5 linked regions of the Homo sapiens genome follow. The protein of the gene in region 2 interacts with the protein of the main gene of each other region in a pairwise test. Each region holds a gene or a part of one and is shown on either strand. Other genes may lie near its edges. The genes, in order: XPO7, PDPK1, KATNBL1, ZC3HC1 and ZNF133.

What was found.
Region 1: the proteins of PDPK1 (region 2) and XPO7 interact in a two-hybrid assay, tested with the Homo sapiens proteins (one large-scale study listed by BioGRID and IntAct).
Region 3: the proteins of PDPK1 (region 2) and KATNBL1 interact in a two-hybrid assay, tested with the Homo sapiens proteins (one large-scale study listed by BioGRID and IntAct).
Region 4: the proteins of PDPK1 (region 2) and ZC3HC1 interact in a two-hybrid assay, tested with the Homo sapiens proteins (one large-scale study listed by BioGRID and IntAct).
Region 5: the proteins of PDPK1 (region 2) and ZNF133 interact in a two-hybrid assay, tested with the Homo sapiens proteins (one large-scale study listed by BioGRID and IntAct).

Annotation. Positions count from the first base shown.
Region 1 is NC_000008.11:21,981,225-21,987,586, forward strand, and holds part of XPO7 (exportin-7), read left to right. Parts: intron 1-506; coding exon 507-653; intron 654-1,415; coding exon 1,416-1,588; intron 1,589-3,421; coding exon 3,422-3,615; intron 3,616-4,361; coding exon 4,362-4,467; intron 4,468-5,916; coding exon 5,917-6,052; intron 6,053-6,362.
Region 2 is NC_000016.10:2,556,549-2,562,910, forward strand, and holds part of PDPK1 (3-phosphoinositide-dependent protein kinase 1), read left to right. Parts: intron 1-1,154; coding exon 1,155-1,415; intron 1,416-1,431; exon of another isoform or gene 1,432-4,931; coding exon 4,932-4,974; intron 4,975-5,197; exon of another isoform or gene 5,198-5,222; coding exon 5,223-5,360; intron 5,361-6,362. UniProt on the Homo sapiens protein: Serine/threonine kinase which acts as a master kinase, phosphorylating and activating a subgroup of the AGC family of protein kinases.
Region 3 is NC_000015.10:34,149,541-34,155,902, reverse strand, and holds part of KATNBL1 (KATNB1-like protein 1), read left to right. Parts: intron 1-1,218; coding exon 1,219-1,259; intron 1,260-2,833; coding exon 2,834-3,113; intron 3,114-6,362.
Region 4 is NC_000007.14:130,018,705-130,025,066, reverse strand, and holds part of ZC3HC1 (zinc finger C3HC-type protein 1), read left to right. Parts: intron 1-560; coding exon 561-804; intron 805-1,343; coding exon 1,344-1,556; intron 1,557-2,541; coding exon 2,542-2,748; intron 2,749-6,334; coding exon 6,335-6,362. UniProt on the Homo sapiens protein: Required for proper positioning of a substantial amount of TPR at the nuclear basket (NB) through interaction with TPR.
Region 5 is NC_000020.11:18,307,219-18,313,580, reverse strand, and holds part of ZNF133 (zinc finger protein 133), read right to left. Parts: intron 3,413-6,362; exon of another isoform or gene 3,303-3,412; coding exon of another isoform or gene 3,275-3,302; intron 2,221-3,274; exon of another isoform or gene 1-2,220. UniProt on the Homo sapiens protein: May be involved in transcriptional regulation as a repressor.

The sequences.
Region 1 (6,362 bases), on a different chromosome or scaffold from region 2:
ACTACTATATGAATAAATTACAGTAAGTGATATAAATATATGAAACATTTGTATAACTTTGCTAACTATCGGTTAGTTGTGCTGAATGATCAGTTTGACAGACGTGGAAATGAAAATTTCATTAGATTTCCTTTGATTGGTAACAATAAGAAAACAAGTCAGTCACGTCTTAGGTCGTGCCCACTTCTGCTATAATGAGCTTTACAGCCTCAGTGTGATCCTCCTGGGCTTCTGTTTCAAACTCTGTCCATTGAGGCTAATAATGTCATCTCATGTGATTATTATTGTGAACATATGAGATAATAAATGTGACTGTCCCTTTTCAAAGTGACTTTAAAAAATTGTTTCTGAACATTATGCAGACGTATCATTCTGAATCATGACCTGCAGCCCAGAAGTTAAAAAGTAGATTCTACCCCTTCCCCCATGCCATCTCAAGTATACATCATTCTTGAAGTATGTTAAGGCACATTTTACATTTTATTTTTCTCCTCTGCTACTGCCAGAGTTTATCAGACCCAAACAATTACCATGAGTTTTGCAGACTACTGGCCCGATTGAAGAGTAACTATCAACTGGGAGAATTGGTAAAGGTGGAAAACTACCCTGAGGTCATCCGATTGATAGCCAACTTCACAGTGACCAGCCTACAGGTTTGTCTTTGATTACTTGTGTCTTCCTTCCTAAATACTGGAATCTCTTGCTTGTTGGTTTTAACCATGTAAGAATATATTTTTTTTTCTTGGCAAAGGTAACCATAAGTCCAGTATAGCCCTACAGAGTAGTTACTATTGTGGCCTGTGATTTACATTTACACAAGTGCAAGTAGTGTGGGGAGAGGAACATGTGGGAATTACTAGGATAATATTTAGATTCATCCCAGAGAGAATTAGCTCATAGTCACCCCAAAAAAGCCAAGGTCGGAACAGGGAGCTAGACAGAAGAGTAAAAAGAGAGTTGATGCCCTCTCTTTCTTAGTCATGTAATATAGAACAATGGGTCTCAAATTTTATGGCTTGTATCACAGTCATCTAGGGGACTGATGAAAAAATATAGATTCTTGAGTCTTATCCCCATAATTTCTGGTTCAGTAGGTCCAGGGTAGAGCCTTGGTGTTTCTAACAAGTTCTTCAGGTGATTGTCATGCATACTAATGGTTGAGACCCACTTACATATGGCTTTCCTTATGGTAAGGCTTACACAGCCAGCATAGAGTAGCCCTTCTCATTAGATGCTTAATCTTGAAAATACTAATAAACACATTAAACTAGATGCCATACACAGAACAAAGCCCACAAAAGTCTATCCTCTTTTTTTAAAAAAAAGAAAAAAGTCTTTATCTTCTGTGTCAGTGGCATGGGACTAACACGTACAGAAATGAAAAATATGCCTTCTGCTTTTCTACTTTTCTTTAGCACTGGGAATTTGCTCCAAATAGTGTGCACTATCTTCTGAGCCTGTGGCAGCGGCTGGCAGCCTCTGTGCCGTATGTCAAAGCCACAGAGCCCCACATGCTGGAAACTTACACTCCTGAGGTCACCAAAGCCTACATCACATCCCGGTTGGAATCTGTGCACATCATACTGAGGTAAGGAAACTTAGCCTCATTCATTCCCGCACCAGTGGCCTGTTGTCACACTTCCTAGAGATCAGACACCCCATTGGCAAAGAGGTACTCGAAGCGTGTCTCATTGGAGCCACTACTGTTCATGGTTCTTCTTCCTTGTCAGCAGAGTAGCATGAGAGCATAAAGCCTGATAGAATAGTCTTGTCTCTTGAACATTTATATTCTATTCATATTCCCCCTTTTCACTGTCCATAGCAATATCTTTGAATAGAGTATATCCATATAATGTTTGTCCTTGCCGCTGTTTTTCTTTCAATGTGAGAAACATTTATAAGATATAGATGATAAGAATTATGTGTAACTTATAGGTGCTTAATGTGAACTCCTAAAGAAATAAGTGGATAAAGATTACACAATCTAGTTATCAATTCTAATTCCAGAGCTAGAACACATAAGAATTCTAAGCCACTGATCACTGATTGCTTTACATTCATACATGGTTTCTGTCTACATTGACTTAACTGAACCAAAATCCCGTAGCTAAAGAAATGTCAAGCCCTTTCAAAAATTACCTATATTAAATGAAGTTATAGCCCTGTTTAGGTAGCTTTCTTGTTTTCACTGGCTGTTTGTCAAGAGAATTTACTTGGAGTCTAAGGGTCTGGGGCCTTTTTAAGTTGGATTCTTAATTTGCTTAGCCCCAAGTGCATTGAATAGTCATGAGTTATAGTCTTAACTGTTGATGACTTGAATCAGTTCAAAATCTGAGTATTCATGAAGTTCACCAGCAAGCCTTCTTCTGTCACCTCCATAGCTTCCACTCCTGAGGATTCGGCTGGCTTCAGTGAGGCATTGTTGGGGAGTGGTTACATGTTTGTAGGCTCTGGGGCCGGATAGCCAGTTAGTAGCTCTGTACTCTTGGGCAAGTTGCTCCATTTCTGTATTTGTAAAATTCAAATAATAATAGGCCTGCCTCATAAGGTTCTTACAAGGATTAAATTAATATGACCTGGCACAGTGTGTAGCACATGGTAAGCACACAGCTAGTTTTAGTGCTGCTGCTCCTGCTGCTGCTGCTGCTGCCATTATCATATTGCAGTGTAACAACAGAAGAGCTCCTCATTGGACAAGATGTTAAAATCTAGGAGCTGGCAGATAAGGCAAGACCTAGTACAGGGCCACAATGCCTTGTCTGCAATTCCAAAGTCAAAGATGTGACAAAAGAAATTTCCTCATCAGTTTGGCATTAGAATTCACTTGTTACAAAACCGGACGGGAGTTGGTATGAGACCATTTGTAGTTTTTTTAAAATCCTACTTAGTATGACCATTTATAATATTCATAAGTTTTGCTACAGGAACGTTGAGTTTGATGTGCCACAAAGCCCATCAAGGGTTTTATATGATATGGTAGAAGCATCATACTGCCTTCCTCCAATTTGAACAGTTCTGAATTCCAAGACACACCTGGCCACAATGGCCTCCCACACAGGACTGTGTACTTATCCTACAGTTTACTATAGTCAAGAACAAGCGAAAGACTAAGAGTCAAGAGGTCAGACAGTTGAGAAGGGCAGGACTTTGAGGTTTAAGGCAGAAAAACATTAAGAGTTGAGAATTCAGATTGTAAGATTTGACACCAACAAGCAGAATATACCTAAGGGAGACTGATGCTAGGGCGAAGACATTGGCCTTCTGCCTCATTAAACATTCTTCCTTGGTTAAAAGTAATGTCGGGATGTAGACCTCTACAGTCAGAAATGGTGGCTAAGTGAAGAAGTCAGAGAGCTGCTATATTGGGCAAATCAGTAGTCATATTTTAAGAGAGCTGCCTTCCTTCTTCCCTTGGGAATAGAGATGGCCTGGAAGATCCCCTGGAGGATACGGGGCTGGTCCAGCAGCAGTTGGACCAGCTGTCCACCATTGGGCGTTGTGAATATGAGAAGACGTGTGCACTCCTCGTGCAGTTGTTTGACCAGTCGGCCCAGTCGTACCAGGAGCTGCTACAGAGCGCCAGCGCAAGCCCAATGGACATTGCAGTGCAGGAGGGTGAGTGTGCAGCGTGCTGGGAACTCTAGACCTGTGAGGAGATGTTGTCTAGTACCCCTTCGCTCATTGCCACCTCTTTCCTACCTCCCTGCAAAAGGATTCTTTCATCATCTGTTGTCTCCATATGCACAAGAATCTTTATGAATGAATAAATCCCTCAAGGGACTAGGGAAGAAGAACTGAAATCACATCTGCAGTGGGATTTTGTTTTAAGAGATGAGGTCTCGCTATGTTGCCACGTGGGCCTTGTACTTCTTGGCTCAAGTGATCCTCCTGCCTCAGCCTCCCGAAGTAGCTGGGACTACAGGCATGTGCCACCACACCTGGCTCCTGTCTGCTTTTTAATGCCCCACAGCACAGCTGGGACCAGGCCAAGAGGTTTATGACTGCTAAATCAAGGGCCAGGGGAAACAGGGAGATAAGTACAGATAGTAACCTGGGCTTCCTCTTTTTACCGGGCCTGGCTGGTGTTTGTAACATGGCACTGTGCCCAGCTTGGGTGTTTTTAACTCTAAGGAAATACTACACTAAAAATAATGGCCTTGTCTGATACAGGAACATTGGTTACCTAACGAATTTCCCTCTTAGCATTGCCCTTACCAAAGCAGAGAAGTAGCCATTCTCTGTAAGAAAAGTAAGACTTCATGGTTTCACCACAGTGTTCTTAAGATTAAGGAAGTTCAGAGTGAGGAATGTCTTCAAGAAACTATCACTGGAGGTGACACTGGGTCTGTCTCCTGCTGCAGGAAGGCTGACATGGCTGGTTTACATTATTGGAGCAGTGATCGGTGGCCGGGTTTCTTTTGCCAGCACTGATGAGCAAGACGCCATGGATGGTGAGCTTGTCTGTCGGTAAGTGCTCCCCACAGAAGCTCTCCACTCTGCCTTGCTGGCACTTCTCCACTCCCCGATAGGGTCCTCTCCACTTACAGAACGTAATCTGAACATGCTAACTGCCCATGAGACACAGCTTTCAAGGCTTTTGTAAGTGCCATGATAACTCTGCCTATGATCTTTACTTTAAAATAAAAAACCAGCAATAATTCAGAAAGGAAATAATGGATACGGAATTAGGAAAACTAAAGCAGAGATTCTCTGTTAGGTCTTTTTACGAATAGTATCTCAGAGTTAGTAAAATATGGACTGCTTTTGCCATCCCAAAATAAGTCTAAAAGGAAACTGCAGTTCTTTAAAGTTCACCAGAGATGGAATTACAGAGTTCCTACAGCCTTTCAAATCTCTTGGCCATACATTTCAAGTTATTTTTCATCTGTGCAATTCTCATTTTATCAAAACTTTTTTTTTTTTTTTTTTTGGAGATGGAGTCTCGCTCTGTCACCCAGGCCAGAGTGCAGTGGCGCTATCTTAGCTCACTGCAACCTCTGCCTCCCTGTTCCAGGTTCTCCCGGGTTCAAGCGATTCTCCTGCCTCAGCCTCCCAAGTAGCTATGATTACAGGCATGCGTCACCACATCTGGCTAATTTTTGTATTTTTAGTGAGACGGGGTTTCACCATGTTGGCCAGGCTGGTCTCGAACTCCTGACCTCAGGTGATCCACCTGCCTTGGCCTCCCAAAGTGCTGGGATTACAGGCATGAGCCACCGCGCCCCGCCTTCAATATATATATCTTCTGAAAATCCTCATTTGTCTCTTTCCACCCCCATTTTGTTTATCAGATGCCCATTTGCCCAGAGGTCCCTTAATCCTGACAAAAGTCTCCGTAGCATTTTCCCACTGGCATTTTTTGAAGAGTTGAGCAGAGCTTTAATAAGAATGAAATCTAATGCCTTTCTGATTCTGCAGCCGAGTTCAATACTGTGTGTGTCATAATATAAATTTAGTTCAAACAATGTCTTGCAGATTGGTTCTGAGCTTGAGTGTAGCAACACAATGATGGAGTCTCATTCACTCATGATGTGTCACAAATAGTTAACTATTCCCACACTCAAATATCAAATGACTCACTTATTATGACATCTGTATTCGCATTCACTCACTTGCATTCCAGTATCCTTTCTTTTGGGGAGAAGGTACAGAGAAAAGAGATGAAGTCACAGGTAATATTTCTGCTAGTAATCCCTGGAAGTGTTACCTACCTGTGAACATCATCCTTCATGTGTCTCCAAAAAGATTGAAAACTCCTGGTCTAGTCCTGCCTCCCTCATTTATGTAGATGAATTTGGTTGCAGGAGGTTGCTGTACCCAAGTACAGGCATATACGACCATGTCAAGATAGCTTGGGTTGTCTAGAGTAAACAGGATGTCCTGCTGTTGAGAGAATCATTGCTCCTCTTCCTCCAGGGTGCTCCAGCTGATGAACCTAACAGATTCTCGTTTGGCCCAGGCGGGTAATGAGAAGCTAGAGTTGGCCATGCTGAGCTTTTTTGAACAGTTTCGTAAGATCTACATTGGGGACCAAGTGCAGAAATCCTCTAAGGTAACAGCCTCTCAATTGGCTCCCCTTAGTTCTCACTTCTCACTTGTGGGATTGCTGATGGAGGGAAACAGTTGCTGATAGTTCACATAACCTCCAGATTTCACGTAATAGGACAGTCCAAATGTTTTCTCTTAGTCTTTAAATTCTGGGAGAGTCATCAAAGAATTGGGCCCATTTCTTTAGTGCTCCATATGCTTAACAAATGGCCAGTCCAAACATCTGTTGTTCTCCCACAAATGGGCAATTCTTAGTCTCCATGCATGAATTAATATTCAGAACAGAAGATTTGGGCTGTCTTTTTGCAATTTCA
Region 2 (6,362 bases):
TAGAGACGGGATTTCTCCATGTGGTCAGGCTGGTCTCGAACTCCTGACCTCAGGTGATCCTCCCGCCTCTGCCTCCCAAAGTGCTGGGATTACAGGCCTGAGCCACTGTGCCCGGCCTAATTTTGTATTTTTAGTAGAGAAGGGGTTTATTCGTGTTGGTCAGGCTGATCTTGAACTCCCGACCGCAGGGGATCCACCCGCCTCATCCACCCAAACTGCTGGGACTACAGGCATGAGCCACCAAGCCCGGCCGTTTTTAGCGTTTAAAAGGATTGCAGCTTGGCTGGTGGCAGTCCCTCTGTCCTGGCACAGACGCAGGGGGAGACCCTGTGTCTTCAGACAGCATGGACTTCAGGACCCTACTGAGAGATGGAATCAAGAGCTCTCCGGGGTTCTTTGAGTGGGGAGTTGTATCGGAAACCACCATCAGCGCGCCTGAGCTCGCCTCGCATTGTTCTTCTGTAGTGCGGGGGGCCACTGCCACCACCGTGAGGACACGTTGGGGTCTGGGGAGGGATTGTTATGGCTGTGGGTGCACCTTGCACGTCTTGCCGACCTAGCTTTGCACGCTGATCTTCCCTCCGTGCCCGCTTACATTGTTAACTGGGTTTCTGCCCTCCCTCCTCTCCTTCGTATTTCTGTGTCTCATTGACAACTGTTCTGTAGTCGCTTTGTTGACAGTTGCCAAACTGCTTTCCAAAAACATTTCCACTGCAATCCCGGTTTTTGGTGCCAGCCGCAGTGGTGTGAGTGCGCTCGCTTTATTATAGTCTTGCCAGCACTGGGCGTCTCTGTGTATTGTAAACACATGCGATCATCACTCTTATCTCTCCATCCCCCCCACAATTAAAGATGTGCCGTGCTATCTCTGCTCAGGTTACCTTGGCCTTGGGATGAGTTGGCTGGAGGCTCAGGCAGCGCGAGGGACAGGAGGAGGGCGAGGCGCTGCCTGGTGGATTAGCGGGGAGCCATGGCACGGGCAGGACTCAGGAGAGGAGGCCGGCAGCTCACAGCAGACCGCGGGGCTCAGCTGGCCTGCCCTGTGCTTGGGGTTTGTTTTTGAGCGTTGAAATGAGGTCCTTAAACCTTAGTCCGTGCATTGAGAGCAAGGCAGCTGCCTTGAGCCTTACTTCCTTTTCCTCTTTGTCGCCTAGTATGACGCCGTGCCCATCCAGTCCAGCGTGGTGTTATGTTCCTGCCCATCCCCATCAATGGTGAGGACCCAGACTGAGTCCAGCACGCCCCCTGGCATTCCTGGTGGCAGCAGGCAGGGCCCCGCCATGGACGGCACTGCAGCCGAGCCTCGGCCCGGCGCCGGCTCCCTGCAGCATGCCCAGCCTCCGCCGCAGCCTCGGAAGAAGCGGCCTGAGGACTTCAAGTTTGGGAAAATCCTTGGGGAAGGCTCTTTTTCCACGGTGAGTATTTGCTGCTGCTGTGTGTCAAACGTACGTGATTTCCTTGGGGAGGCTCACCTTCCTCGGGGCTTGCCGGAGACTCCAAGCAAGGCTGGTGTCCTTCCAGGCAGGAGGTCTCAGGCCCCTTGAGGGGTGTCACCTGTTGTGAAGGCCACTTGAGTCTTTGGGGGCTGGGTACCCCCCAAGCAGATGACGTGATGAGTGTGGCTAAATATTTAACCTGGTTTTGTAGATGAGAACGTTAGACACATCTCTTGATGGTCTGCGGAGGTTTTTTCTGATGTAGTTAATTTCATTTTAACCTGGCATCAGCAAGTTACATTCTGTGTCCTTGTGTCTCACTGGCAGGGCCCTGGGAAGCTGTTCTTTTTCTTAGATTGAAAGTTAGTATCTCTCCAGGGTTTTTGGGGACATTTATTGACCTCTTCTTATTTCTCTGTTTTGTTTTTTTGAATACATAAAACAGTACGCTCTGGACATTTGCTGGAGACACAGCCTCCAGAGTCTTGTGTTCCGAGTTTCACAAACAGGAGTATTGTCGCAGTACTGTCAAGTCACACTTGTTACCTGTCTTCGGGGTGTTTTTTCCTCTGAAAGCAAAGAAATGAAGGTCGAAAGCAGCTGACATGGGACGTTTTGCTGACGTGGGACCCATGAAGCCGTGTGTGGTTGTGGATTTAGTGAAGGTTGTAACAGGTTCAGGGGAGGCCTGAGCAACTCGGGGTGTACTGTCTCCATCTGGGCCTCTAAAGAGACAGAGTCCCGTGCCGCCACTGTGGTCGCCAAGGTGGCCGCCGTGTGCGTGCTAGGGCCATTCCAGGGAGCCCTGGGGGCACCTCACTCTGGAGGGCCTGGGTGAGTTCCTGAATAATTCTTTCTTGCCTGACCTTTGTGAAGAAACCGTAGGTGAGGTTTATTTTCCTTTTTTCTCTTTTTTACACATAGGAAATATTTCACAATGCAAAGAAAAACATGAAATATAGCTTACCCATATTCCCAACATATTGTTTTAATTAATGTTAACTTTTGCTGCCCTTACACTTTAGATTTTTTAAATTGCAGGTTTTATGAAATAATTTTTTTATAAAAGGATTATGCCCTCATGAAAAATGCCTTCAACCATGAGACTAGTCCCCAAAGTTTTGGGGACTCAGATCCTTTCAGAAAGAAGAAACTCTTTGGAAAACCTTGGGCATTCTGCATGGCTGCTTACAACCACCCAGTGAAAGAACAGGCCTCCTCTTTTCTCAGCTTTACCTGTTTTTTGAGACAGAGTCTTGCTCTGTCACCCAGGCTTGAGTGCAGTGGCATGATCATAGCTCACTGCAGCCTCGACTTCCTGGGCTCAAGTGATCCTCTTACCTCAGCCTCCCAAGTAGCTGCAGTTACAGGAATGCACCACCGTGCCCAGCTAATTGTAAAATTTTTTGTAGAGACAGGGTCTCACTTTGTTGCCCAGACTGGTCTTGAACTCCTAGGCTCGAGTGATTCTCTCCTCAGCCTTGCAAAGTGTTGGGATTACAGGCGTGAGCCACTGTGCTTGGCCTCAGTTTTACTTCCTTGTATGTCTCTTTTTAATTTAACTTTATTTTATTATGTATGTATTTATCCTTTTAGAAACAGAGTCTTGCTCTGTCACCTAGGCTGGAGTGCAGCGGTGTGATCATAGCTCACTGCAGCCTTCACCACCTGGGCTTAAGCGATCCTCCTGCCTTAGCCTCCTGAGTAGCTGGGACCACAGGCATGTGCCACCATACATGGCCCTTAACATTTATCTTGACTGAAAAAGGAAGACTCATCTGTGAAATTGCCTGTTTCCCTGGGTTCTGGAGATGGGTGGAGAGCAGGCACTGTCCCTCCAGGGGCTGTGGTCCGTGTCTTTCTGAACCTGCACCAGGGAGGTGCCCGGGAGAGCACGGTGAGCCGGAGGCTCCTCCATGGGGCTGTTTGGAATCCACAGTACTGGGTCTCAGATTACATGTGTTACCCTCAGTTCTTTCTCAGCTTTCCTGAAATGGAGATCACATAAAAGTTGATTTCCAGGGGAGGGGGAAAGGACAGTGATAGGAGGCTGGGCAAGAGCCAGCTGCAGCACCGGAGAGCCGGGAGGCCCCCTGAGGACGGTCACAACCTCCAGGGAGGGACACGTCACGCGCCATTCTCTGGAAGAGGATCCTTCCTTCTTGTAGGAAACCTGCTTGTGAAGTGTTGAGTTTAGACAACGGAAAGATCACATCAGTATCCCCTTAGAAAGGGTTCCACTAAATATCGGTGCTCGTTCACAATTCTTTCTTCCTCTTTTCTACTTATGAAGCTAGCACGTGCTCTTGTGGAGAAACGTGACCTCACAGAAACACATGAGCTAGAGAGGGGAGCCCTGCCCGGCCCACTTCCCCTTTCTCCCTGGCAGCTGAGAGCCATCCATGCGTGGCGTATTCCTCTGGGAAGACCTTGAGTATGTAGAGTCCCCAGAATCCAACTTCATTCTTCTTGAGTGCCACAAGGCGTCTCACATGGTGCTTTCCAGGATCTCTTCTGACGTGTCCCATCAGGAGTCCTGCCCCGATTGCGGCTCACAGCCCGGGGCCAGGTGGACCTGGCCCTGTGGCCTCCTGAAGGTCTTCCTGCCAGCCCCCAGGAATGTCACGGGACAGGTTTCCTCTGCTCCCTGCTCCTCAGGCCGTCCCCCTGTGGGTGTCTTAGGAGACACTTGTGTCCCACTTGGTGGTGGTGGGGCCTCCCTGGCACAGCTGCCTCATGCTCTCTGGCTAAACCGTGGGCCCACCAGGAATCTCCAGTCTGGTGCCTCAGGGTGTGCCCCAGGCTAGTCCGAGTGGAGGGTCTCTCCCCTGTTTGGGATGCCTGCCCTGCTGGAGTGCTCTGTCTCGGAGGTGGGGTTTGAGTGCAGGGCTCAGGGGTGCTGAGAGGACAGGGCAGGAGGCCTGCTGCATCCCGGGCAGGTGGCTCCCTCTTGTGGGCACGCAGGGCCATGCATTGCTGGTTTAGCTCCCTCTGTCCTTTACAGCCAGGCTCTCTTCATGGTGCCCACAAGCAACATCATACAAAATGTATGATAACAGTTATTTCCAAAAACGAAACTTCAGGGCAGCCTTTGCAATGAATGTATACTAGAAGGACATATTGTTGTCACAGAAGCCCCTGTGCCCTGCCACTTGTGGTGGCGCCACTGTCTTCCTTCTGTTGGTGAAGGGCGTGGCAGTCGAAGAGGTTCCTGAGTTTGTACTTGTGTTGCACCGTTAGGGCTGTTAGCAGCTGATCCAGAAGCTTCTGGAAACAACAGAGAGATGGATATGTTTTCTCTTAGCTGTTAGAACACATCAACACGAGCATTGGCTTTTAGCTCTACTTGTCAGTACAAGACCCAAAATATTTCACTGTAGACTCAAGCCTTCAGTGGGGACAGGAAGCGTGCGTGTGGGGCAGAGGGACTCGTCAGGCCCAGTGTCCTGGTTATTACATTGTGTGTTTCTTTTTCTCCTTTTCTTTCCCAACCAGGTTGTCCTGGCTCGAGAACTGGCAACCTCCAGAGAATATGCGAGTGAGTATGGGCTGCAGGGAGCTGTGCGTCCGGGAGCAGGGCAAGCGGCTCCGTGCAGGGCGGCTGGGGTGGCAGGGCCGGTGTTTCTGTGCTGATTTCAGGGTACAGGACACTGTTGGCTTTAGAGACCACCAGGCTGTTGTGTACAATGTTTGAAAGACTTTAATTTGTACCAGTTACCTTTGTGAGTCATGTCTTTAGTGTTTTTTGTTGTTTCTGATAGTAACTCACTTCTCTCTCACCTGAAGTTAAAATTCTGGAGAAGCGACATATCATAAAAGAGAACAAGGTCCCCTATGTAACCAGAGAGCGGGATGTCATGTCGCGCCTGGATCACCCCTTCTTTGTTAAGCTTTACTTCACATTTCAGGACGACGAGAAGCTGTGTATCCTTTGCGTGGTTGGTGCCGTCTGAAGCCACACCAGTCACCCCTCTCACTTGGAATCAGACCCTGTGTGTTCCCACAAGCAGCCCCCGCTCCCTGCCGAGTGGGGTCCCTCAGGCCGCTGACATTCAGGGAGGCAGCCGAGGCAGCGCCAGGGTGTGGCTGGGAGTCTGCACAGGACGTTACCTCCCGGAGAAGCCACCGATGTGGCTCCAGCACAGTCCTCTCTGCTGCGGCTTGCTTGGTCGGCGTCCCTTGCTCCCCTAGAGCGCCATCTTTTCTGTTATTAAACCTTGGCTCAGGAATCTGGGAGGCAAGGCCCGGTGGAAGTTGGGGTGGGCCCCACCTCTGCCCCATCCAGCTGACCTGTGGGCCTGCCAGTGGCTGGGCTGGCCACGCCACACCGTCGTCACCCCCAGCAGGTGCAGTCTGCATCTGCTCTTCTCCTCCCCCGCCACCCTCCAAGCTGGCCCAAGTGTCGTGGCCTCCCCATCCTGCCTGGGGAGGGGCCTGAGTCCTCCCACCTGTCCTCCCCGTCTCTCCCCAGCACCCGGCTCTTCTGTGTTAGAGCTTCGTTCTGGCCTGCTCCCACTCTCAGCACCATCCTGCAGCTCCTTCGGCTGCCGGCGGAGTGTGTGTGCTCTCTCTGTTTGGAGGTGCTTGCCAAGTGCAGGTTGATGGGTGATGGGGATGCGCTGCTATGCCGGGTGGCGTCTCTGCCCACGAGAAGCTTCGATTTTGGTGGAGGAGCTGGACGTGCACTGACGATCCGTGTCAGAGGCTTCCCGGCAGCAAGATGCGCTGCCAAGAGTCTTAGGGCTGGGTAGGGGCTGGCGGCAGTGTGGGGCTCTTTCAGCTCCTGGGCAGGAGTGTGTGGGGGGGCATGAAAGGCTGTGGTGGGCTGGGCCCCTGAGCCGTGGCAGCCTGGCACTGACTCTGGACTTCCTTCTCTTTGTGGCGGGGAACGTGGGGTTTGCTGTGGCTTCTCCTAGGCCAGGCGGG
Region 3 (6,362 bases), on a different chromosome or scaffold from region 2:
GAGGAGTACCAAATAAATTTAAGACCTGAGATCAAATAGCTGCTGGATTTGAGTCAATATTTTGGTGGGTGACAATTAATAAAAACGTAGATTAGATAAATTCCACCTATTACAACCAACAGCGGTTTATTAACTATACTAGAGATGCTGTTAAAGGAATAGCTGAGCAATTAGGGCTTACTAGCCAGATGGCTTGGGAAAATAGAATGGCCTTAGACATGATTTTAGCAGAAAAAGGGGAAGTTTGCATCATGATTAAAACTCAGTGTTGTACCTTCATCCCAAACAATACCGCCCCTGATGAAAGTATAACAAAGGCATTGCAAGGTCTAACTGCTCTGTCCAATGAGTTAGCAAAAAACTCAGGAGTAAATGACCCCTTCACAGGGTGGCTAGAAAAATGGTTTGGTAAATGGAAAGGGATCACAGCCACCATCCTTACTTCTCTTGCAATTGTAGCAGTAGTGCTTATCCTTGTTGGATGCTGCATCATACCTCGCATCCGTGGGCTAGTCCAAAGACATACAGAAACAGCCCTTACTAAAACTTCTCTCAGTTCCCCTCCACCATATTCTGACAAGCTCTTTCTTTTAGAAAACCAAGCAGAACAGCTATGCCAAGACATGTTAAAGAAATTTGAAGAGGAAGACCTGTAAAATTCAAAAGGGGGATATTGTTAAGTACAGTGAGTTCTGAGTTCCTCTGGGAACCAGTATGTCAGTATGTTCAGCTTTCTTATACTTTGTTCTCCATTTTAAAGTTTAACTTCCTCATTCTTTACACCTCCTTGCCCTAGTTTCAGTAAACAACCCCCTTCTAGCCTTTATACTCACATATTTAGAGTCCTTAGTCATCCTTAGTCACCTGCTCTGTCCTTAGTCATCCTTAGTCACCTGCACTGTAACCATCCTTCCTGCCTAAACTGCTCACCCCGCCACTCTGCCTCATACCCAGATAGCCTATCAGAATTAGTTTAGACTGTGCGGTCCAACCCTAGCCAATAGGGGAATGACACAGTAGTAGGGACTAGCTGCATTAGGGATAAGAACCCCTTCTCCTCCCATGCCCGGTATGCTCTTGCGACCACTCCAGGCACGATTGGCACCCTTCTGCAGAAGTAAATTGCCTTGCTGAGAAAGCTTTTTGCCGGAGTGCTGATTCTTCTTTGCGGCACCAAGCATTTGTTTCTAACATCAACTATCTACTTTCATTTTTCAGGTTAAGAAATCTCCAAAACAGTTGGCTGCTTACATAAATAGGTAAGAGTTTCTTTAAAGTTTGTGGGGAACAACAAATATGAAAGCTGGGTAAGGATGACAATAAGGGAAAAATAAGCATTCTTTTATCATAATAATAATTAACTTATTGTCAAACAGCTTCTTTATGCCAGTATCTGCACTAATAAACACATCAATATTGTCTCTGCTCCTTACAACAGTCCTACTCTATAGCCTACTCTATAGATAACATTAACCCTAACAGTTGATGAGAAAACTTAAGATCAGATAAGTTAAATGATTTGTTCAGAATCATATAGCTAGAAAAGTGGTAAGAATGACATTCATTCTCAGATCTGCCTAACTTCTAAAGGCACTTTCTACAAAACGACTGGTTTTCAAAGTGTGATTTGAGGACCTGCGGGTCCCTAAAGACCATTCATGGAATTTGTGAAGTCAGAATTACTTCCATAGCAATACTAAGACATTGACTGTCTTCATTTTCATTCTCTTGTTTGAGGGTACAATATAATTTTTCAAGAAGCTATATGCCATTTGATATCACAGTAGATTGAATGGAGAAGCAGAAATGAGAACCCAGCTGTCTTTTGTTAAACCAGATATTAGAGATATATAAAAATGTAAAACAGTACCATTCTTCTCACTTTTTAAAAAATTATTTTAGAAAATATGGGTTTTGGGTAAGATATTCCATGTTAATATGTAATTAGTCTTTTTTTGAATGAATTAACAAATGATTTAAATTTTGTTTTAGTTTTTACACAGTAAATATCAATAGATACTATTCACATAAAAATTATTTTGGCCATGGCTCACACCTGTATTCCCAGCACTTTAGGAGGCCAAGGTGGGTGGATCATGAGGTCAAGAGATCAAGATCATCCTTGCCAACAGGGTGAAACCCTGTCTCTACTAAAAATACAAAAGTTAGTTCAGCATGGTGGCGCGCGACTGTAGTCCCAGCTACTCAGGAGGCTGAGGCAAGAGAATCACTTGAACCTGGGAGGTGGAGGTTGCAGTGAGCTGAGATTGTGCCACTGCACACTAGCCTGGCAACAGAGAGAGACTGCATCTCAAAAAAAAAAAAAATTTTTGAGTCATTAATTATTTTTAAGAGAGCAAAGCATCGTGACACTAAAACGTTTGAGAACCACTGTATTAAACGATGAGGCTTGCTCTATCGTGTTCTTACTCAAATAAATCAATATACTTCAGCTTAATTAAATTTTAAAATATTCACACTTGCAGTCTTATTTGCCACTTTGTTAGAAAAAGATCAGGTTTCTAGAAAATGTTGTGGTCTTCTTACTCCCAGAATGGCCTTTAATATTTCATTTTTAAAAGCATTCTGGTTATTATGTCTGTCTTCATTTTTATTTGGCATAAAATGTCATCCTTTACATTGTCTTCCAGATAATTTGTAATTTCCCTTTTACTTTTCTCTTCAACTCAGAATTAAGATTTTTAAAATTCTATTTATTTCTAATTTTAGTGGATTACAATCACCAAATATAGCCTATTAATTCTCTGTTTAAAAACTTTTAAAGGATTTCATATGGTTCTTTTTCATTTAAGAAAATAAATTCTTTTTACAGAACAGTTGGACAAACTGTGAAAAGCCCAGATAAACTTCGTAAAGTGATCTATCGCAGAAAGAAAGTTCATCATCCCTTTCCAAATCCTTGTTACAGAAAAAAACAGTCCCCTGGAAGTGGGGGCTGTGACATGGCAAATAAAGAAAATGAACTGGCTTGTGCAGGCCACCTGCCTGAAAAATTACACCATGATAGTCGAACATATTTGGTTAACTCCAGTGATTCTGGTTCTTCACAGACAGAAAGCCCATCATCAAAATATAGTGGGTTTTTTTCTGAGGTAAGTCTTTTCTCTAACTCATATCTAGTTTAACTTTGTTCCTGTTATAATCTTGATTTTTTTCTTTGCCATATTCCACTAGCAGAATAATTTGTCACCTATTGAATGTAGACTTATTTGAGTCATAGTAACTCCCTGAGACAATTTTCTAGATTAACCAAATTTGAATTAATAATTTATTCCATTTCTCTAAGATGGGATGAAATGCTTAGCAGGCTGCTAAAACTATCCAGAATGACAAGTTAGCCAGTAGAGATTTAAAGGAAGGGAAAAGGAGAAATCTTGCCTAAAAAAGTGGAGCACTAGGCCGGACACAGTGGCTCACGCCTGGAGCCCGAGGTGGGTGGATCACGAGGTTAGGCGTTTGAGACCAGCCTGGCCAACATGGTGAAACCCTGCCTCTACTAAAAATACAAAAATTAGCCGGGCATGGTGGGGGGCGCCTGTAATCCCAGCTACTCAGAAGGAGGCTGAGACAGGAGAATCGCTTGAACCCGGGAGGCAGAAGTTGCAGTGAGTTGAGATCACACCATTGCACTCCAGCCTGGGCAACAGAGCGACTCCGTCTCAAAAAAATAAAAATAAAAAGGACAACATCTGCAGGCAGATCACCTGAGGTCGGGAGTTCGAGGCCAGCCTGGGCAACATGGTGAAACACCCTGTCTCTACAAAAGTACAAAAATGAGCCGGGCATGATGGTGGGTGCCTGTAATCCCAGCTGCTTGGGAGGCTGAGGCAGAAGAATCACTTGAACCTGGGAGGCAGAGGTTGCAGTGAGCCGCGATCATTCCATTGCACTCCAGCCTGGGCAAGAGAGCAAGACTCCATCTCAAAAAAAAAAAAAAAAGTGGACCACCGAAGCCAGTTATCCAGACACATTTTGCCGGGCTCTCAATATTGCCTGGTTAAAGCATAGTTCAGGCAAACCTGCTGTGGTTTGCTGCTCTTCTGGCTCAAGCAAAACTGGTTAACAGACTCAAAAGCGTTTTTGAGAGTGATAGAAATATTCTAAAACTGGGCCTGGCCAACATGGCGAAACCTCATCTCTACTAGAAATACAAAAATTAGCTAGGCATGGTGGCACACTTTGGGAGGCCAAGGCAGGTGGTCAGGAGTTCAAGACTCGCCTGGCCAACATGGCAAAACCCCATCTTTACCAAAAATACAAAAATTACCCAGGCGTGGTGGTGCACGCCTGTAATGCCAGCTACTTGGGAGGCTGACGCTCAAGAATTGCTTGAACCCGGGAGGCAAAGGTTGCAGTGAGCCAAGATCTTGTCACTGCACTCCAGCCTGGGTTACAGAGTGAGATTCTGTCTCAAAAAAAAAAAAAAAAAAAAAAAAAAAAAAAAAGTAGGCAAAGGACACAATAGACACTTTTCAAAAGAAGACATACATGTAGGTGACAAGCATATGAAAAAATGCTCAGCCTAAATGCTAAACCTAAAATCACTCATCATTAGAGAAATGCAAATCAAAACCACAACAGGATATCATCTCATACCAGTTAGAATGGCTATTATTAAAAAGTCAAAAAATAATAGATTCTGGCAAGGTTGTGGAAAAAGAACACTTATACAATGCTGGTGACAATGTAATTTAGTTTCAGCCATTGTGAAAGCAGTGCGACAATTTTTCAAAGAACTTAAAACAATCTTATTATTGGATATATACCCAAAGGAATATAAAACATGCTACCATAAAGACACATGTATGCGTATGTTCATCACAGCACTGTTCACAATAGCAAAGACAAGGAATCAATCGAAATGCCCATCAATGGTAAACTGGATAAAGAAAATATGGTGCATATACACCATGGAATACTATATGCAGCCATAAAAAGAACAAGATCATGTCATTTGCAATCACGAGTGAACCTGGAGGCCATTATCCTAAGCGAACTAATACAGGAACAGAAAACCAAATGCTTCATGTTCTCAGTTGGAGTGGGAGCTAAACACTGTGCTAGTGCATATGGACACAAAGATGGGAACAACAGACATGAGGCCTACCTTAGGGTAGAGGGTGAGAAGAGAGTTAGGATCAAAAAACTACTTATCAGTTACTATGCTTATTACCTGTGTGATGAAATAATCTGTACACCAAACCCCCACAACATGCAAACTACCTATATAACAAACCTGCACATGTGCCCCTGAACATAAAATAAGTTTGTTTTGTTTTGTGTTTTGAAACAGGGTCTCTCGCTCTATCACCCAGGCTGGGGTGCAGTGGTGCAATCTTGGCTCACTGCAACCTTCACCTCCCAGGTTCAAGCAATCCTCCCACCTCAGTCTCCAGAGTAACTGGGACTACAGGCATGTGCCACCACACCCAGCTGATTTTTGTATTTCCTATAGCGACAGGGTTTTGCCATGCTCCCCAGGTTGGTCTCGAACTACTGAGCTGAAGCGATCAACCTGCCTCAGCCCCAGCCCAAAGTGCTGGGATTACAGGTGTGAGCCACTGTGCCTGGCCAGAATAAAAGTTCTTTTTAAAAAGTTTCAGTTGTGCATTTTAAAAACTACCCCAGTGAGACATCTTTCTCAAGAACCTCTTTTTACTTTACATTCTCATTTTCACTACTTTTCACTAAACCTTACATTTAACTAATAGGTTTAATGATTATTCTTGTTTCATACCTGTTTTCTTGATTGACCAGTACCTGCTCTAAAAACCTAAATCTGAAAGTGATACCATAACATCTTAGCCAAGTTAAAATACATATAACCATTGACCTAGCTGTTCCAATTGTAAAATTAATTTTAACAAAAGTGTCTGTACAAGTGCACATATTTACATATATCAGGATGTCCACTCATCAGTTTTGATAGGTAAAAACCAGAATCTAAATAAATTATGGTATGTAAAGACTAGAGAATATGCTATTGTTTTTTGTTGTTGTTTTTAAGAGATGAGGTCTCACTGTCTCACTGTCTTTCCCAGGCTGGACTCAAACTCCTGAGCTCAAGTGGTTCTCCCACCTCAGGTTCCCAAGTAGCTGGGACTGTAGGCACACAGCACTATGCCAGGCTATGCTGTTGTTCTTTAAAAGTAAAGTTGGGCTTGGTGTGGCGGCTCATGCCTGTAATCCCAGCACTTGGGAGGCCAAGGCAGGCGGATCATGTGAGGTCAGGAGTTGGAGACCAGCTTGGCCAACATGGCAAAACCCCATCTCTACTAAAAATAGGAAAATTAGTTGGGTGTTGTGTTGGGTGCCTGTAATCCCAGCTACTCGGGGAGGGT
Region 4 (6,362 bases), on a different chromosome or scaffold from region 2:
GGGCATGGTGGCGGGTGCCTGTAATCCCAGCTACTCAGGAGGCTGAGGCAGGGGAATCACTTGAACCTGGGAGGCGGAGGTTGCAGTGAGCTGAGATCGCACCATTGCACTCCAGCCCGGGCAACAAGAGCAAAACTCTGACTCAAAAAAAAAAAAAAAAAAAAAAAAAAAAGAGGGACAGGAGAAACTTTTTGTGTTGTTGTTGTTGTTGGTCAGGCTGGTCTCGAACTCCTGACCTCAGGTGATCCACCCACCTTGGCCTCCCAAAGTGCTGGGATTACAGGCATGAGCCACTGCACCCGGCCGAGAAACTTTTAAAACATGCCTGCAAAACAGTCTTACCATAGAGAGCACACTAAGAACCCGAGGTCTTTCTATGGGAAATATGTGAGAGATGATGAAGTATGAAGCTGGGTCCTGAGACTGGAGCACAGAGGCTCTGATAGGACATGGTGACTGTTCCAGAAATTGGATGAGATAAGGCATACTCACAAGACATTGCACTTAGTCATTTGGAAATGTTACACTTTGAGAAAACTCTCTTTTTCATTCCTATCTAGTTCCTCTTTGGAATCCATGCAGCTCTCCCTGATAACATGTTCGCAATGTATGAGGAAGGTGGGGCTCTGGGGCTTCCAGCAGATTGAATCGTCCATGACTGACCTGGATGCATCCTTTGGCCTGACCAGCTCCCCAATCCCAGGCCTTGAGGGGCGACCAGAGCGCTTACCTCTGGTGCCTGAATCTCCTCGGAGGATGATGACCCGGAGCCAGGATGCCACTTTCTCCCCAGGCTCAGAGCAGGTATTCACTTAGCTTATTTGGGGTGGAATTTTAAACAACATTCTTGGCAAAAGTGTTGTTGGTAGAAAGTTGGAAATTAATTTAGGTGGATAGGCTTCTCTTCCCACTACATTGGTTACGATACCACATAGTGTTTCTGTTCACTAATGGGGAAGCTAAATTCAGCCAGACCCGGTGGCTCACGCCTATGATCCCAGCACTTTGGGAGACTGAGGCAGGCAGATCACTTGAGGTTAGGAGTTTGAGACCAGCCTGGCCAACATGGTGAAACCCCGTCTCTACCAAAAATGCAAAAATTAGCCAGGTGTGGTGGCAGGCACCTGTAATCCCAGCTACTTGGGAGGCTGAAGCAGGAGAATCACTTGAACTCGGGAGGCAGAGGTTGCCATGAGCCAAGATCGCCTCACTGCTCTCCAGCCTTGGCAACAAAGCGAGACTCTGTCTCAAAAAAAAAAAGAAAAAAGATTAAAGAAAGAAGTATTTCTGACCATAATCATTAATATCATTCGTGTACTTCCATTATCTCCCCTTTCCTTCAGGCTGAAAAGAGCCCTGGTCCCATTGTCTCTCGAACTCGGAGCTGGGACTCTTCCAGTCCTGTTGACCGTCCTGAGCCAGAGGCTGCTAGCCCCACCACCAGAACTCGCCCAGTGACCCGAAGCATGGGAACAGGAGACACCCCTGGCCTGGAGGTACCATCTAGCCCTCTGCGGAAAGCCAAGCGAGCTCGCCTCTGCTCCTCCAGCAGTTCGGTGAGTCCACCTCGCATGTAGCAGTGGCTGAGCATAAACAGCATATTGGGCCCTCCCTAGGCAGCATGGAGAAGCAGGCAGGAGCCCTTCCGTGGTCCAATGCAAAAAGTAGACCATGTGAATAAATTTAAAGTTGGATGACCAAAGGGAAAAAATGTCAGTCATGTTTTTTGCTCCTTTTTGTTCCTTTGGAGTGGATTCTGGAGAAATAATAGATATTTCAGGCAAATGGAACAACGGTGTGATACAGGGACAAACCTGATCTGGCAGCGGTCCCCAACCTTTTTGGCACCAGGGACCGTTTTCATGGAAGACCATTTTTCCACGGACCACGGTTGGGAGGATGGTTTCGGGATGATACGAGCACATTACATGTATTGTGTACTTTATTTCTATTATTATTATATTGTAATATATAATGAAATAATTGTACAACTCACCATAATATAGAGTCAGTGGGAACCTGCAGCTTGTTTTCCTGCAACTAGATGATCTCATCTGGGGGTGACGGGAAACAGTGACAGATCATGAGGTGTCAGACTCTCATAAGGAGCCCGAAGTCTAGATCCCTCTCATGTGCAGTTCACAGTAGGGTTCCTGCTCCTATAAGAATCTAATGCCACTGCTGATCTGACAGGAGGCAGAGCTCAGGTGGTAATGCAAACAATGGGGAGCAGCTGTAAATTCAGATGAAGCTTTGCTTGCCCGCCTGCTGTTCACCTCCTACTGTGCGACCTGGTACCCATCCATGGCCTGGGGGTTGGGTATCCCTTATCCCTTGTGATAAGGTATAGTTTGTTTAACACAAAAGGAGTGAAAAAATAAAGAAAATGAGAGGAAAATGTGTAGGCAAAGTTTGAAGGAGAGCATAAACACTCGAAGTATGGGTAGTTGTGAGATTCTGGACTTGATAACTAACAGCAGTGCCTCCCTGAACTTACATAGCATCTACCTATGAATGCTATTTCTTTTTCTCCTTCCTCAGGACACATCTTCCCGAAGCTTCTTTGATCCCACCTCTCAGCATAGAGACTGGTGCCCTTGGGTGAATATCACACTTGGCAAAGAAAGCAGGGAGAATGGTGGAACTGAACCAGATGCCAGCGCCCCAGCAGAGCCAGGCTGGAAAGCAGTGCTGACCATCCTCTTGGCGCACAAACAGTCTAGCCAGCCAGCTGAAACGGACTCCATGGTGAGATACGCCACTGCCTTGTGTGTGGGCAGCACTTGCTGTTTATGGGAGGTGGAGCAGAGGCTGGGCCTATAATTAGCACCCCGCCTGCCTTCAGCTTTCATACGTCAAGTTATTTGGGTTTTTTTGTTTGTTTGTTTGTTTTTTGAGATGGAGTCTCGTTCTTGTTGCCTAGGCTGGAGTCCAATGGCACGATCTCAGCTCACTGCAACCTCCGCCTCCTGGGTCAAGCGATTCTCCTGCCTTAGCTTCCCAAGTAGCTAGGATTACAGGCGCCCACCACCACACCCGGCTAATTTTGTATTTTTAATAGACAGGGTTTCACCATGTTGGCCAGGCTGGTCTCGAACTCCTGACCTCAGGTGATCCCCCCGCCTCGGCCTCCCAAAGTGCTGGGATTACAGGCGTGAGCCACCGTGCCCGGCTTATACGTCAAGTTAGACTCATTCTGCTTTCGTCCTAGGGATTAGGCATAGAACCGGTTCGTCTTTCTGTAGTTTAGCATATGGCATTCCGTCAAGTTCTGATAAATTCTTTTGTTCTCCTAAATAAAGTGACTCCAAGTAGAAAAGGAGTACGGAAACAGAAATAGATGAACAGGCAGCTGCTCCGGCCTCATGTTGCAGACAGCTGCTTTTTCTTTCATTTGCTGTCACTTGCACTTGGAGCCTGGCCAGTTAACTTAGCTGTTTGGAGCACTGGGCTCTGACACCAAGATGATGGCCTCATTCCGCACGCTGGGCACATTACTTTACTCTGTTCCACAGCCCAGACTGTGACTCTGCTAGCCATTGCAGCCATAACTGCTGTGGGTTACAAATGTGGGTGACAACTGAGAAGAAAAGTCAAGTGTTTGCTCTGTGTAAAGATTGGAAGTGATAGGCTGGGTAATATGGAACCATGAAAACTGGGTTCTCTCCTTCGCTGGCTCACTCCCAAATTTTCCTTGTAGCTGGTAACAATTTCTGATCGTAGTCTATAACTTTCAAGGACAAAGTAAAATAATACTTGTCAGCAGATATTTATGAGCAGCACTCCTAGATTCATGGTTTTCTAGGGTTACAGGATTCCACTGGAGGGAACTATAGTAATGCTAAAAGTCCAAAATTGCATGGCTGGGTGTGGTGGCTCACGCCTGTAATCCTAGCACTTTGGGAGGCCAAGGCGAATGGATCACCTGAGGTCAAGAGTTTGAGACAACCTAGCCAACATGGTGAAACCTCGTCTCTACTCAAAATACAAAAAAAAAAAAAATTTGCCATGTGTGGTGGCAGGCGCCTGTAATCCCAGCTATTGGGGAGGCTGAGGCTGGAGAATCACTTGAACCCAGGAGGCGGAGGTTGCAGTGAGCCGAGGTTGCGCTCCAGCCTGGGCTTCAGAGAGAGACGCTGTCTCAAAAAAAAATAAAATAAAAATAAATGTATATTAGTACCCTTAGTAAATATGCAGGTGAAGGTTTTCCAAGTTTTCACAGAAAAAAAAATCCGCATTTCTCTGCCTAGATCTTCAGGAACTAGTACATTGGCAGTTTTCAGTAAGACTCCTCTCTGTCACTGCCATACGAAAAAGAAAGCCTATGGGTTTTGTTTTTGTTTTGTAGTGGGAAAAGTTGGCCTCATAATTGGCCCTGGATTCCAGGACTTTTTTTTTCGGTAGTGTGTCTTAACCTTCTGACAGCTGCTGTGACGAAGCTAGAAAGCTTAATGAGACTGTGTGGTAAAGGATCCTGATGTTCGAAAAAAAAAAGTATATACCGAGGCCAGGCACAGTGGCTCATGCCTGTGATCCCAGCACTTTGGGACGCTGACGCAGGGGAATCACCTGAGGTCAGGAGTTCGAGACCAGCGTGGCCAACATGGCAAAACCCCATCTCTACTGAAAATACAAAAATTAGCCAGGACTGTTGGTGTGCACCTGTAATCCCAGTACTCCAGAGGCTGAGGCAGGAGAATTGGGAGGTGGAGGTTGCAGTGAGCCGAGATCGCACTACTACACTCCAGCGTGGGCAACAGAGTGAGACTCCCTTTCAAAAAAAAAAAAAAAAGAAAAAAGTGTATACTATTTTTTCAACTCAGGTTTCTTTCAACTTTGTCACTCTATTAACTAAATTTCCCTCAGTCATTAGTAAGAGTTCAAACTTTTTCCTCCTGGAACTTATTGAAACATCCTCAAAGAGGATAGATTTTTAAAAAACTGTGAAAGTGGGCCGGGCGCAGTGGCTCACGCCTGTAATCCCAGCACTTTGGGAGGCCGAGGCAGGCAGATCATGAGGTCAGGAGATCAAGACCATCCTGGCCAACATGGTGAAACTCCATCTCTACTAAAAATACAAAAATTAGCTGGGCGTGGTGGCATATGCCTGTAATCCCAGCTACTCAGGAGGCTGAGGCAGGAGAATCGCTTGAACCAGGGAGTCAAGAGGTTGCAGTGAGCTGAAATGGCACCACAGCACTCCAGCCTGGCGACAGAGCGAGACCTGTCTCAAAAAAAAAAAAAAAAAAAAAAAAAACCTGTGAAAGCGTCATATGAGAAACTGGAGGTAACTGTGGATCATCTTGCTAGACATTCTTTGTACTCTCACTGAGACCCTTTCTGCGTGGAATACTTGCTCTTCATTGTGACTCTCAAAGGCAGACAGAACCAAGTGTTCTGATTCACCAAGAGCTTTTGTCTCCTAATGAATTACTTTGTCTCCCTTTACCACCATTTCTCAGAATCTCAGAGTACTTCATTGGCATGATCAGATGGCACTGCGATTCTTCCTATTATTAGCACTGCTGGCTAAAACATAAAAGCGGTGAAGACCAAGGCCAGAGCTTAAACTCATAGGGGTCATTCAACTCTGTTTTTATTAGTTGTCCTTGGTTTATACTGTTAACCTCAGCTAGGCATCACATTAAGTATAAGTACTTATTCACAATAAATAATGAACTAGGGCCAATTCAGCATCATGAATGAAAAACCAGTGCAGGCCGGGCGTGGTGGCTCACGCCTGTAATCCCAGCACTTTGGGAGGCCGAGGCAGGCGGATCACGAGGTCAGGAGATCAAGACCATCCTGGCTAACACGGTGAGACCCCCATCTCTACTAAAAATACAAAAAATTAGCCAGGAGTGGTGGCGGGTGCCTGTAGTCCCAGCTACTGGGTGAGGCAGGAGAATGGCGTGAACCCGGGAGGCAGAGCTTGCAGTGAGCCGAGATTGCGCCACTGCACTCCAGCCTGGGTGACAGAGTGAGACTCCGTCTCAAAAAAAAAAAAAAAAAGAAAAACCAGTGCAAAACATGTGCTGTACTAACGGCAAGTCAGAAGTGTCATCCTCAAGTACAAAGATGAGGACAGATACAGATGCCTGAAGGGAGGATATGAGCCGTGTCTTAGAGGCTCAGAGTGTGTTAACAGGAGTCTGACAGTAGAACGTTGGCCCCTCGATCTTTAGTCTGACTTTAGGTATACATTATGTATAGCATACTACAAAATGAATTTTTACTTAGTCCTAGACATATCCAGATCATTGTGGGACAAATGATCTATCCTTTGTCTCTATAAAAGAACGTAATCACTAATAATAAGCTTTTCTACCTACAGAGTCTCTCTGAGAAATCAAGGAAAGTAT
Region 5 (6,362 bases), on a different chromosome or scaffold from region 2:
ACAGCTCATATCTCCTTGGCTTACCTTCATACATATTAGGGCATAGTCATGGGTAAGTAGGTCTTTCAGCAGTAAAAGGAACTCCTGTGTCTGTCCTGAGTTAAGCACAGTGACTATAATTTTGACACAGGTAATACCTCCCACCCACCCTTATAAGAACCAAGGCTTCTGATATGTAGGCTTATTACAGCCCTAGCTGCTGTGCCTATGTGTAAAGTGGCAGGCTTTTATTTACACTAAATGTATTTCAGAATTATAGAAGCGCCTTCAGAGAAATCTTAATTCAACATGGTTTTAACATTTGTATGGAGTGACAGAAGAAAAACAAAACTTTAATTCTCCATTAGTCAGTTTTTTCAGTTGGTCACCAAATTTGGCATTCTGTGTATACACTAGGAATATTTAGTCTTAGAAGAAATTTTAACACAAAATATTACCAGGTTAATGAATTTATTTATAAAATATTTTAAATCTAAGGTGCTCCTGCACTGATAGGTTTATAGAGACTAATGGGCACTGACACAAATTTAAAATTTAAAAACTCGAGAATAACTAAATTAAAAAAAAAAAATCAGGCCAGGTGTAGCGGCTCACGCCTGTACCAGCACTTTGGGAGGCTGAGTCGAGTGGATCACTTGAGGTCAGGAATTTGAGACCAGCCTGGCCAACATGGTGAAACCCTGTCTCTTCTAAAAATATAAAAATTAGCTGGTTGTGGTGGTGTGCACCTATAATTTCAGCTACCCAGGACGCTGAGGCAGGTGCTTGAACCTGCGTGGCGGAGGTTGCAGTGAGCCGAGATTGCGCCACTGCATTCCTGCCTGGGCAACAGAGCAAGATTCTGTCTCAAAAAAATAAAAAATAAATAAAATTGAAAATTGAACTCCTAATGATTCAAATATGCCAGTTTCTGAAGGAAATCTTTCTTGCTGCAGCTGAAGCTCTGGCTCTGAAGAAAAAAGTTTAGCTGTGAATTAAGCCAGGCACCTTGCTTATTAGGTTGCACGATAAGAAAGAAATGTGAGGCACTCAGAGCTTATTTACTACAATATGTAAACAACCTTACTAGCTGGTATGTAACTAAAGGGTGGAATCAATATTTCAAAGTAAGATAAAGCCTGCAAATAAGACAAATGCAATGTCTTTTCCCTTATTTTATCAGTGTAAACATAACATTAGCATAATATTCTAGTGATATAAAACTTGGTTCTGATATGTAGGCTTTCTCAAAGAAAGTTTAACTAATCTAAACTTCCAAGACTAATATATAGGTTCAGCATCCCTAATCTGCAAAGTTCCAAAATCTGAAAATCTTTAAGCACCAACATGCAGCCACAAGTAGAAAATTCCACAGCTGATCTCATGTGACAGGTCATAGTCAAAACACAGGCACATAAAATTCAGTTTATTCAGCATCCTCAAAGGAAAAATATAATTACCTTCAGGCCAAGTGTACAAGGTGTACACAAAACATAAATGAAATTCCTGTTTAGACTAGGGTCCTATACCCAAGATATCTCATTATGTTTATGGTAATATTCCAAAATGCAAACCAACCAACCAACCAACCAAACAAACCCAAAATCTGAAACACTTATGGTCCTAAGCATTTTGGATAAGGGAGAGTCAACCTATACTGATTTTAAAAATCAGATAGGCTAATATTGCCTTCATAAATATGTAAGATTAGGCACATGTAGATATATGTGTCCAACTAGTATCTTATAATTTACAGACAGTGCCAGAAATTACGTGAATCTACAATTACTTTACTCAAAGTAAATACCAGAAATGGCATATTTTTCAGGCAGTTTTTAACTTAAGACTGATTAAGTTGTTTTTCAATTTCTAAGATCTCTGTTAGGAAATCATTATAAGAATAAATATTTTTGTTAAAAAATTCAAAAACAAAACTATACAAAGTGTTCTCATGCAATAATTTTACTTGTATTTTTGCCTAAACTAATGAGATCAGCCTTATGTTAATTATTTGAGACTGAAACTTAAAACTTTAAATACCGTCCATCAACACTATATATGCTTAAAAACATGTACAATTATTTAGCTTGCCAATAAACAGAAAAAAGCTTAAACTTGACAATAATACTGGTAACTAAAAAAGAATTATAACTTGGTGTATTTCTGTCCTCCATATGAAAAATAACTAATTTTTGTCTTTTGTATACTCAACTTAGAAATAAAAGCTCTATTTTTACCTCACCAGATATCCAATTTCTCATTCTTTATTTTTTAAATTTCTTACAGATAGGATCTCACTCTGTGGCCCAGGCTGAAGTGCAGTGGTACAATCATAGATCACGTAGCCCAAATTCCTGGGCTCGAGCAATCCTCCCTCCTCAGCTTCCTAAGTAGCTGGGACTACAGGCACACAACACCTCACCCTGGCTAATTATAAAAATTTTTTTAGAGACAGAGTCTCGCTATGTTGCCCAGGCTGGTCTTGAACTCCTGGCCTCAAGTGATCCTCCTGCCTTGGTCTCAGCCTCCTGAGTAGCTAGGAATACAGGTGCAAGCCACAGCACCTGGCTTTAGTTCTCATTCTTAGGCTTCTGTGTTACCTCTTACCAGGCTTCTTAGTCAATATAAATAACAAGGATTAGTCACTTCAGGAGGGCATATAATTCTTCATAATTATGGTAACTCCTGTTACTTTTAAAAAACTAATTAATTTTTAAATTGACAAAAAATGTATATATTCATTGTGTACATTTTGAAATATATATACATTGTGACATGGCTAAATTGAGCTAATTAACATATTGCATCACCTCACATACCTATCATTTTTTGTGATGAGAACACCCAAAATCTACTCTTAGTGATTTTCAAGAATACAATATATTGTTATTAACTGTAGTCATCATGTTATACAATAGATCTCTTGAACTTATTCTTTCTATGTGAAAATCCTTTGACCAACATCTTCCCCAACCACCCCCATCCCCTAGTAACCACCATTGTATTCTCTTTCTCTATGAGTCCAACCTTTTTAGACTGCACATATAAGTAAGATTGTGTGGTATTTGTCTTTCTGTGACTGGCTCATTTCACTTAACATAACATCCTCCAGGTTCATCCATGTTGTTGCAAATGATTCCGTTACATTTATTGAATTAGCATTCTGATTAATGAAACAGCCGAGAAAATTAAATACTTTTCTTGTAACTAGCCTATTTTGAGGATTCTGATATTGCCTGTCTTAAATCCAAGTCCCAAATATAGAATAATGAAACCGTTAAGATGTATTTTATACCTAGAACAGTCTTCCTCCCGTTACACATATATTTTGGGTTTCCAAGACAGCTTCCTGGGCAACCACAATGACTTGCTCCTTGGATTGTACAGCATTCTTTTTAATGTGCTCAACATCATTGTAAGAGCTGCTGTTTTTCTTTAAATTAAAACAAGGATTAAAAACGAGACAAAAAAGATAGGTTTCGCTTTAAGACAATGATAGGTAAGCTGCTTGTTATTAATATAAATGTTTTGATAATTCTATACTTTTCAGGTTGAGAAAACACATATTTGTGTAAATGTACAAAGGTCAGGGTGTATAGCATTTTCCCAGCCTCCACCTGCCAATTCTAGAATGAACACACAGGTCAGATAATGCCCCTACATCCTCTCCTTCTCTGTCCAACATTCCTTCCATGTCCTTGGCTAGACACCTCTCTTGTTCCTTGAGAGGAAGATTTTTGTAAGATTCCCTCAAGTAGATAGACAGCTTCTTCCTTTCATATCTCAAGCATTACACAGTGGGATGAATGTCCTTGTTTTGTAATGTGGCTTCCACACCATTACCTACCATACTTTTTTTAGGACCATCCACAGGTCTCCTGGTTTCACACACTGCCCTGAATATTTGATCACCTACCAGCCTCACATCCTCTCCACACCAATACCTGTCAGCACTCTCAGGGTGCTCCACAGGGCTGAGCCTCTGGCTAAGACTCCAACTTCTCAGCAACACTGACCTCACCTGCACTGTGAATGCTGTTCACAGACACTGCACAATCTTCACATTCTCTCCTGTGCACATTCCCTTCTCTGACACAGCCTTTTCTTCTACCTTCTGACTCACTTTGCTCAAGCACCATGGGCACATTGGTTCCTGACCTTATTTGGGGCTCCAATCCATGACCTTTCAGCTTATACACCAGTCCCTCATCTTTACTCCTTCATACAACTGAGATCCAATGGACTTACATATCCAACTGACCTTTTATGGAACTATATATTCGGCGGAGAGTCTATGAAATCACTATGGTGCTCTCACAAGGATGCTGTTATGGACTGAGTTGTGTTTCCCCCAAATTCTTATGTTGAAGCTGTAATCCCTAATGTGACTGTATTTGGAGACAGGGCCTTTAAAGAGGTAATTAAGGTTAAATAAGGTCGTAAGGGTGGGCCCTAATCCAATGGGGCTGGTGTCCTTTTAAGAAGAGGAAGAGACGACAAAGATGTGTGAGCATTGAGAAAGGGCCATGTGAAGACACAGGGGGAAGGTGGCCATCTGTAAGTTCAGGAGTGAGGACTCAGAGCAACCAAACCTGCTGACAACTTGATCTTGAACTTCTGGCTTCCAGAACTATAACTAAATGAATTTCTGTTGTTTAAGCCAGCTAGTCCACAGTATTTTGTCATGGCGGCCCAAGGTGACTAATACAGATGCTTTACTTCCTTTGCCCTGACCTTCCTTCTTTCCTATTGCTGTAGTAAAACACCTACTCATCTGCCTCAGTCAACCCCTGAGCAAGTCTCATGAAATTTATCTGTTATTAAGTAAAGTCACTATTAAAAGTTAACACCACTTGGTTTGACAGCAAATGCAACACCAGCTACATGCTGCTGCTTAAAAGCAAAACACCCAAATGACAATGTTTTTATTTTAAAATAAAAGGATGAACAATAAAATACCAAAAAGATGCACCAGAAAGTACAGTGCTAAGACTAAAAAGAAATAAAGAGGAAGTTAAAGGAAACAATAGCTCATGGAACTAAGAGAATTTCAGCATTAAAAACTTCATTAATGAGTAAGATAAAAATATCCTGAACCTTTCTATACCTAATAGAACAATAAAGTGAAATATAACACAAAAACTTAGAAATAAATGGAGAAGTTGATATAAATTACGACTGTGGAGAGCTTTAGGATTCCTTCTAACAGATGAACAGTAAGGATACAAGCAAGTTGAAAAACAGCGACAATTTATATTATGTATGCTATGGTCCCTCAATTTGAAGACAGAATTAATCAATTTAATAAAAACAAGAGGAGAAAATTTCTTACCCAGAAAAAGAAAATATATACTTCTGTGCAAACATTTATAAAACTGTCAAAAGAATTTTAAAAATTAAAGCACATATATAATTTCTTAAAGTTATCTATGTGTCTGTCATTTAAAAATAATGCAAAGTAGGATGAAAAATTCTCAGCAGCCCCTTGTCCAACCCTCCCCAATTCTATCCCCACAGAGGTAACCACTAGTAATGGTAAATAACAACAGACTTCTATGTTCACATAAACATATGGATATATACTCTTTCATACACTTCTCTTTGTTTAACAACAAACTCAACTGCATAGTATACAAAATCCTATAACTTTTTCACTTAATAAGTTATCCACTTAGTGTCTGATTTAAAGAAGATAAAGTAAAATTTAATTATAATTAGTGAACAGATAGGAAATCTCACCACAAAGAAAAGTGTAGTAAAAGTGAATGGAAATTGCAGAACTGAAAAATAAGTGAAATGAAGGATTCACTGGCCAGAGCTTAGCACATTGGAAATGACAAATGAGACAGTAAACTTGAAGACAGACCAACAGAAATCATCCAGTCTAAAGAACAGAGAGAAAAAAAAGATTTAAAAATATGGAAAGGATCTATAACCTGTGGGATTATATAAAAAGGACTAATATACATGTGCCTATAGTCCCAAAAGGGGACAGAGAGATTCAGGCAGATAAAAACATGTAAAGGAAGAATGTACTTAAGGCAGTCACATCACAGTGAAACTGCTGAATACCAAAAGTATGGAGAAAAGTAGCCAAAGGAAATAAAGCTAAATTATGTTCATGGTGACTTCTCCATCAGAAACAATGGCAGGCAGAACAATGGAATGCTATCTTTAACGTGCTGAAAAAATAACCAATGTAGAATTCTACATCGAGCGAAGATACACTTCAAGAATGAAGGTAAAATAAAGACACTTTCAGAAGCAATAGAGAATACACTGCCACCTGTACCATAAGAAATGCCAAATGAAGTCCTTAAGGTTCAAGAAAAATAATACCAAAGGTAAACTCGGATTTTCAAACAAACAAAAAGAACAGAAAA